Regions from separate parts of the Homo sapiens genome. Here region 2 is linked to region 1. Evidence: fine-mapped expression QTL. A gene starts in region 1. The other region holds a variant in brackets. All regions are shown on one strand. Distances are between the middles of the regions.

Region 1 (4,389 bases):
AAAATAGAAAAATTAGCCGGCGTGGTGGCATGCACCTGTGGTCCAAGCTACTCGGGGGGCTGAGGTGGGAGGATCATTTGAACCCGGGAGGCAGAGGCTACAAAGAGCGGAGATCATGCCACTGCACTCCACCCTGAGCGACATAGCGAGACTCCGTCTCAAAAACAAAAAAACATATATTAGAAATAATTACCAGAAATAGAAAATCACAAGAGATTATCTAATCCCGTATATGGGGCTACTATAAATAACCTCAGAATTTAGAAATAAGAAAAAAATATTAAAAGCCCCAAAATTAATAAAAAATCAGTTTTAGGCCAGGTGCGGTGGCTCACGCCTGTAATCCCAGCACTCTGGGAGGCCGAGGCGGGTGGATCACGAGGTCAGGAGTTCAAGACCAGCCTAGCCAAGATGGTGAAACCCCGTCTCTACTAAAAATACAAAAATTAGCCGGGCGTGGTGGCGGGCTAATTAGGTGGTGCCTGTAATCCCAGCTACTCGGGAGGCTGAGGCAGAGAACTGCTTGAACCCGGGAAGCGGAGGTTGCAGTGAGCCAAAATCGTGCCACTGCACTCCAGCCTGGGCGACAGAATGAGACTCCGTCTCAAACAAACAAACAAAAAAAGTTTTAGATGAGCTCTGCCAGTAGTAAACGGCTTGTAAAAGAAACCCGGTATCTGGTCAAGTCCTAAGTGACCTGAACCACGCATCTTCAGGACTCTACTGGGATGACTGTAACCTGAACGCGGTTCCTAGAGCAGAGCAAGCATATTCCTTGGACTCAGTAACACAAGGGGCCAGTCCTCTCCAGCATCCCAGCTGCCACCGCCCTGTCAGGCTCCCCAGGCAATTGTCCATCTTACTCCTTCTCCAGCGTGGACGCTTAAGGGGAGGGAGCATCCCTCCTCGAGGGTCAACTGGCATGTAGCTTACGAAGACCGCGTGAGTTCTCCAACCCCAGACTTGCTGCGGGGCGGGGACGTGGGGGTGACAAAATCCAGACTACGACCCTCCATGAGCCCTGGCAACCCCGGGGTGACCCCAACACCGATGAGGCCACGCGCGCTCCAGCTCTGACACTCCTTCCAGATCGGCGGGGCCTGAAACAGCGGGCTAAGCTTCACCTACGGCTGAGCGTCAGATTCAGCTGAGGAGATTCTAAAAGCGCTATGCTGGGCCCAGACCCAGGCCCTCCAGAGCAGAACGCGGAGGGGCCCGACCCCAGTCTGGTGGCGTAGGTGTGTGACAAAGTATGAGGGCGCGCCAAGCTCTCCAGTTCCACATCTGCTGTCGAGTCCAGCGCCTGCCACGCTCCCGTGCGGGGACCCGCCCAAAACTCCCTGGAAGCCAGGCGATTCAGACCCCGCCACCGCGTCCCCAGAGACTGGGCGGAAACCGGAGACTCGCCTCCCGAACCCGCGAAACTATCTCCCGCGAGACTGCCCCGCCCCAACCCCGCCCCGCAACTCTACTCCCTGATTGGCTGGAATTACGGCCGGATTCCGGAGTCCTTTCCAGCTCCCTCTTCGGCCGGGTTTCCCGCCGAATACAAAGGCGCACTGTGAACTGGCTCTTTCTTTCCGCCAATCATTTCCGCCAGCCATTCATCACCGATTTTCTTCATCTTCCCCTCCCTCTTCCGTCCCGCAGTCCCCGACCTGTTAGCTCTCGGTTAGTTAAGGGACTCGGGTCCTTCCGAACTGCGCATGCGCCACCGCGTCTGCAGGGGGAGAAGCGGGCAGGGGCGCAGGCGCAGTAGTGTGATCCCCTGGCCAGTCCCTAAGCACGTGGGTTGGGTTGTCCTGCTTGGCTGCGGAGGGAGTGGAACCTCGATATTGGTGGTGTCCATCGTGGGCAGCGGACTAATAAAGGCCATGGCGCCAGCAGAAATCCTGAACGGGAAGGAGATCTCCGCGTAAGCACCTGACATTGTTGTTGAGTGTGGGGCTGTGGACGAGGGCTCTGAGGGTGTGCAGGTCCCCCGGACCCATTTTTTGCGGGAGGGACACTTGTAGCGGAAGAGTTAGGCCCATAACACCTGAAGACCTGCAGCCAAAGAAAGAGAACCCGGGCACAACCTGCGTTTGCAAGTGGACTGCCTAGTGGCTGTAGCCGCTGGCTCCTGTGCTTCGGGGAAAAGTCCTGTGCCGACTATGCTCCCAAACGCGCAGCTGCTGGTGACTTTCTGCCGGGAGAGTGGGTAGTTGCGGCTTCCTGGAGCCCCCCTAGTCAGAACTCAGAAATCCAATCTACTTAATTCCCGTTAATTTGGAGGTGAGTAGATGGAGACTAGTGAGGTGACAAGGCTTGACAAGACTACAAGGCTGATAATGACAGAGGGTCCTTCCAGCTCATAGCTTTTCCCACTATACCATAGTCTTATCATACGCTAAGTGAAATCTAATACATTTTTCCTTTCTCTTCAATCTCGTGCTTCTCTCTAACAGCCATCTCTCTGCCCTGGTCCTAGAGTTACTTGAAACGTAATTTGGCTCCTGAGTCCTGAGAATATTCTGCATTCCACTTGACCTCTGCCTGTTCTACCCTTGCGGGACATCTGAATGCTTAATTAGTGGGTATCGTTGCCAGCTTTACTCCCAGGAAGTAACACTGGCTGCTTTTTGTCTGGGAGGTGACTGGTGAGGAAAAATGAGAGTAGAAGGAAGAGGGAAAAATATATTCCCTCTAGTAGATGAAGGAGGGAAAGATATATTCTGTGTGACCTTACTGAGTTTGCTCTTGGGACCTTTCACATCACCCGTTATGTAAGTAACTGTTGCCAGCCACAGCAGTTACTAAATTGTAATTGTCCTGTAACTCCTAACTTTGTAATAGGTTTTTGAGTGAATTACAAAGTCATCGGTGGTGAAAAGTCCGGGCCCAGTGGCTCATGCCTGTAATCCCAGCACTTTGGGAGGCCGAGGTGGGTGGATCACCTGAGGTCTGGAGTTCAAGACCAGCCTATCCAAAATGGTGAAACCCCATCTCTACTAAAAATACAAAAAATTAGCCGAGTGTGGTGGCAGGCATCTGTAATCCCAGCTACTTGGGAGGCTGAGGCAGGAGAATCACTTGAACCTGGGGGGCAGAGGTTGCAGTGAGCTGAGATGCGCCATTGCACTCCAGCCTGGGCAACAAGAGCGAAACTCCGTCTAAGAAAAAAAAAAAAAGAAATCACAATACTTACTGCTTAGTGCTTTTCAACATGTGGCTTGCTAAACTGTATTTCTGCTTTACTTTCTGTTTTTGTTTGCTTGTATTCAAACTTACTTCCTTTTCCAGTGGCTTTTTGTTTTAATATAAAAATCTTCCTTTTAGAAAGACTGATTGTGAAGAGATAATTTAGTGCATAATAATAGTGCAGATAATTTAGTACAATAATAATGCATCTGGGCCAGTACTGAGAATAGGTGCTCACTGAATATACTTTCGTTAATTGGAGAGCAAATTAAATATGTTTATCAACTCCATAAGGGCAAATACATGTATTGTCTTATTTTTGTCTATATCCTAAACACCTGGAAACCCTGTTTCCTGCCTTACTACTTGTGTGGTTTTAAGCAAATTAATTAACCTTTCTGTGCCAAAGTTTCCTCAAATGTTAAGTAAAAGTAATGTCTAGGTCATTGGGATGTTAGTAGAATTAAATGGGTTCCTAACAGATGATCATTTATAATTCTTCCTGGCACATAATAAGTATTCGATATATGTTGTATTAATAATCAGTAATTAGTTAATGTATATATGAATGATTCATTATCTTTTTTTTTTTTTACATGGTAGCTGCTGCCTTGAGATCTATTTTTTTTTTTGAGATGAAGTCTTGCTGTGTCCAATCTTGGCTCACTGCAACCTCTGCCTCCTGCATACAAGCAATTCTCTCATATCAGCCTCCTGAGTACCTGGGATTACAGGTGCCCGCCATCACGCCTAGCTAATTTTTTTTTTTGAGATGGAGTTTCACTCGTCGCCCAGACTGGAGTACAATGGCGTGATCTCGGCTCACTGCAACCTCTGCCTCCTGGGTTCAAGCGATTCTCCTGCCTCAGCCTCCCAAGTAGCTGGGATTACAGGCGTCCGCCACCATGTCCAGCTAGTTTGTTTGTTTGTTTGAGACAGAGTTTCACTCTTGTTGCCCAGGCTGGAGTGCAATGGCATGATCTTGGCTCACTGCAACCTCCACCTCCCAGGTTCAAGCGATTCTCCTGCCTCAGCCTCCCGAGTAGCTGAGACTACAGGTGTGTGCCACCCCGTCCGGCTAATTTTTGTATTTTTAGTAGAGACGGGCTTTCACCATGTTGGTCAGGCTGGTCTGTAACTCCTGACCCCATGTGATCCACCCACCTCGGCCTCCCAAAGTGCTGGGATTACAGGCATGAGCCACTGCAC
Region 2 (4,389 bases), 38 kb after region 1:
TGTGCACCCAAAAAATTTCCTTTGTAGGCTTTAGCAAATTAACATTTTAAAATGGGTGCTCATTATATACTGGGTAGTTGGTTTTAAGAATAAAAAACAGTTGGTATTTTATTTGCCACCTGAGAGACTACAAAAGGATTCTCCAGGTTCTGTAAAACCACTTATGCATCTTGTGAATTTTTGCAGGTAAAATAATTTTCTCCCTAAGAAATAGCAAACATCTGTCATTCCATAGCTTTTAAGTTAAGTAGGCACTGGAGCCTGATGGGACTAACACACCCTACAATTCTGCTGAGTTTTTGTCGTAACTGATCACCAGGACTGTGATTCTGAGACTTAGTTTTGATTTCTCCCCCACTTGACCAGATGATAAAAAACCAAATGGGAGAAAAGTTGTGGGTGATGTGGCATACGACGAGGCCAAAGAGAGGGCGAGCTTCATCACTCCTGTTCCTGGCGGCGTAGGGCCCATGACAGTTGCAATGCTCATGCAGGTAATTGTGAATAAAAGTTTCTATAAGAGTTCTGAAAAGCTGATCGAGTTTTGGCTGCTTTTCTCCCCAAGTAGAAATGTCAAAAACCTACTCAGAAGTAAAGATGTGAATTTATTGAGAAAAAGGGAAGGGAAGAATAGAGAAATAAGATCAGGCACATTAATAGAGGAAAGTAGGGATGGCATAATTCCAGTCTGTTTTGGAATATAATAACTTTGAAAGAAGAAAAGTGCGATCACACTGGCTTGGCCAGGTCTGTTTTGGTTTGCCTTCCCTTTCTTTTTTTTTTTTTTTTTTTGAGACGGAGTTTTGCTCTTGCTGCCCAGGCTGGAGTGCAATGGTGTGATCTTGGCTTACCGCAACCTCCATCTCCCTGATTCAAGTGATTCTCCTGCCTCAGCCTCCTGAGTAGCTGGGATTACAGGTGTGCACCACCACGCCCGGCGAATTTTGTATTTTTAGTAGAGACAGGTTTCTCCACGTTGGTTAGGCTGGTCTGGAACTCCCGACCTCAGGTGATCCGCCCACCTTGGCCTTCCAAAGTGCTGGGATTAGAGGTGTGAGCCACCGTGCCCGGCCTGTTTTCCCTTTCTAACATGCACCAGCTGACAGGGGCCAGGCGAGCAGCCCCAAAGCATGTTAGGTGCCTCTTGACTCTTAGCTAGGATTGAAGCATGGTAATAAGTGGGTCTGAAGCAGTTCATTTTGTGATTGAACTGGAGTGACCTGGAGCTTGAAACTGAGGTGAGGATTAAAATAACCACCTCTTCTAAGTTTCATTTATTTCATTTTGCTTAGAGCACAGTAGAGAGTGCCAAGCGTTTCCTGGAGAAATTTAAGCCAGGAAAGTGGATGATTCAGTATAACAACCTTAACCTCAAGACACCTGTTCCAAGGTAAAAATAAAGTTTTACTGATTTAAAACTTTGTGAATTGTTGGTTTTTAGTTGACAGATACTGTGGGTTCACATATGCTCCCTCTGAAGGTGCCTTCAGTGGTTGGGGTTGGGTTGGGGGCTTGTTACTACTGTGGGATTAATTAAACTCAGTGGATAAACATTAATACCTATTTTCTATGTTTCCAAAGTGACATTGATATATCACGATCTTGTAAACCGAAGCCCATTGGTAAGCTGGCTCGAGAAATTGGTCTGCTGTCTGAAGAGGTAGAATTATATGGTGAAACAAAGGCCAAAGTTCTGCTGTCAGCACTAGAACGCCTGAAGCACCGGCCTGATGGGAAATACGTGGTGGTGACTGGGTATGCTTTTTATTCATGTTGCCATCCAAATCTTAGTATCAGTCCTGATACTAAGGCGTTGCATTTGCACTTGGCACATGTATGTAGAGGTGCCTTTAATTTGATTTTAGCATTTTCACCCGTATTTGATCTCATTTGATCCTTACAGCAATCCTGAGAGGTAGGTAAGAATAGATTATAATCATAGATGAGAAAATTGGTCAAGGTTATCCATCTAGTAAGTGGAAGAGTTTGGTCTTAAAACCCGGTCTTAAGATAGAATCACCTTTTGCTGTTGTTGTTGTTGTTGTTGTTTTGAGACAGAGTCTCGCTCTGTTG[C/G]CCAGGCTGGAGTGCAGTGGCACGATCTCGGCTCACCACAACCTCTGTCTCCCAAGTTCAAGCGGTTCTCCTGCCTCAGCCTCCCGAGTAGCTGGGACTACAGGTGCAAGGCACCACACCCAGCTAATTTTTGTATTTTTAGTAGAGAGTGTGTTTCACTATGTTGGCCAGGCTGGTCTCGAACTCCTGACCTTGTGATCCACCCACCTCAGCCTCCCAAAGTGCTGGGATTACAGGCGTGAGCCACCACACCCGGCCAGAATCACCTTTTTGAACCCAAAATTCATTAATTCGATGGATTTACTAAGCATTCATTTTTATTGCTGGGCTGAGGTTATATTAAAAAGCTAGTTTTTGAGAATATAAAATGAGAAATTAAAATTATAGCCGTGTCTCTACAAGATAAAGTATATTTGCTTCTTACAGCAAGAAGAGCTAAAATACAGGAATCATTTTTTTTCTTAAAGTTTTTTGGAAATTACAACTAAGACTTTTGAAAAAGATATCTTTCAGGGCTTTTGTCTTTCTTTTTCTTTGTCTTTTCTTTCTTTTTTTTTCTTTAAGAGATGGGGGTTTGCTCTGTTGCCCAGGCTGGAGTACAGTGGTGCAGTCATAGCTTACTGTAGCCTGGAACTCCTGGGCTCAAGTGATCCTCTTGCCTCAGCCTCCTATATAGCTGGGACTACAGGCATACACTGCTATGCCTGACTTTGTCTTTCTTAATCTTTAGATTACGAGTCATTCTCTAGGATCTGCTAGGTATGACTTAGTGATTCAGATACACTTAATTCTTTAAACCTTTTTCTCTTTTGCTTTCGTCTTGAAGAATAACTCCAACACCCCTGGGAGAAGGGAAAAGCACAACTACAATCGGGCTAGTGCAAGCCCTTGGTGCCCATCTCTACCAGAATGTCTTTGCGTGTGTGCGACAGCCTTCTCAGGGCCCCACCTTTGGAATAAAAGGTACTAGTGAGACTGGACCATGGGTGGTGACAGGGGACCTGCTTCTCCTTCAGTCCTCCCAGGCCCACGCAACCTATGATACTTATGGGGTCTTCAACTCATTTCAACACCAGGAATGTCATTCTCACAAACCTCTGTAGTCATGCTTTTGATGAAGGCTGTCATTGGATCTCCCCAGCTCCTGCTGTCACTGTTGGCCACTGCACAGGGATTCTCTGGGATGGGTGATATGTAGCTGGAGGTGCTTTTATTTGACCCTCATAGTCCACTGCTACAGTAACCATAAAGGTAATCATAGCTACTGATCATCTTACAGACACTCTAGAGACAATGACAAACCCCACAGATGTTTCACCTTGTTGGGAATAAGAAAAGCCTACCTTTATTGAATATATGCTTTGTGCCAGATATTGTGCTGAGCAGTTTTTGCATATTATTCTATCATCCAGTACGAGATAGTATTGTCACCATTTTAAAATAGCAGCAACTGGGACTTCAGAGGTGGCTTGGTCAAAGGCACCTGTATTAAGTACCAGAGTGATTCTTCCATGTCTATTTCAAGCTCTAAATTACTACCATACTCGCACTTTACCTTCAGATTTTTATTGCTGCGGTACTAAGAACATGTGTTTTTTTTTTTTTTTTTTTTTTTTTGAGACAGGGTCTCACTCACTCTGTCGCCCAGGCTGGAATGCAGTGGTGTGATCTCGGCTCATTGCAACCTCTCCACCTTCTGGGTTCAAGAGACTCTCCTGCCACAGCCTCCCGAGTAGCTGGGATTACAGGCACGCATGACCATGCCTGGCTAATTTTTGTATTTTTGGTAGAGACGGGGTTTCACCATTTTGGCCAGGCTGGTCTTGAACTTCTGACCTCAAGTGATCTGCCTGTCTCAGCCTTCCAAACTGGTAGGACTATAGGCATGAGCCACCGTGCCAAGCTGCTGTCTTAATTAAAATAATGTTTATTAATTATGATAGGTTCTTAGAGTTAGCTTTCTCTGCTTGGTGAGGGTATCACATTTTGCTTGTTCTAGCAATTACTACAAATGTTGACACCGGGAACACCTTCACCCTTCCACCTTTTTTTTTTTTTTTGGAGACACAGTCTCGCTCTGTTGCCTGGGCTGGAGTACAGTGGCACGATCTTGGCTCACTGCAACCTCCGCCTCCTGGTTTCAAGCAATTCTCCTGCCTCAGCCTCCCAAGTAGCTGGGACTACAGGTGCGTGCCACCATGCCTGGCTAATTTTTGTGTTTTTAGTAGAGATGGGGTTTCACTATATTGGCCAGGCTGGTCTTGAACTCCTGACCTTGTGATCTGCCCACCTTGGCCTCCCAATGTGCTGGGATAA

The links. PIP is the estimated chance that this variant, and not a neighbour inherited with it, causes the effect. A credible set is the group of variants that fine-mapping cannot tell apart.
Region 2: its variant is the best candidate, but not a certain one, in a credible set for the expression of MTHFD1 in lung (TOPMed, PIP 0.85).

The regions. Positions count from the first base shown.
Region 1 is chr14:64,386,554-64,390,942 of GRCh38, forward strand. It overlaps MTHFD1 (methylenetetrahydrofolate dehydrogenase, cyclohydrolase and formyltetrahydrofolate synthetase 1), which reads left to right and starts at 1,800. Exons shown (of 28, transcript NM_005956.4): 1 at 1,800-1,915. The coding sequence starts at 1,875. RefSeq lists enhancers at 863-962, 983-1,042, 1,563-1,652.
Region 2 is chr14:64,424,438-64,428,826 of GRCh38, forward strand. It overlaps MTHFD1 (methylenetetrahydrofolate dehydrogenase, cyclohydrolase and formyltetrahydrofolate synthetase 1), which reads left to right. Exons shown (of 28, transcript NM_005956.4): 9 at 367-494; 10 at 1,293-1,390; 11 at 1,582-1,755; 12 at 2,900-3,036. Among named protein-coding and RNA genes, the nearest start is that of MTHFD1, 38 kb to the left of the region's middle. The variant C/G (reference allele first, on the strand shown) is at 2,074.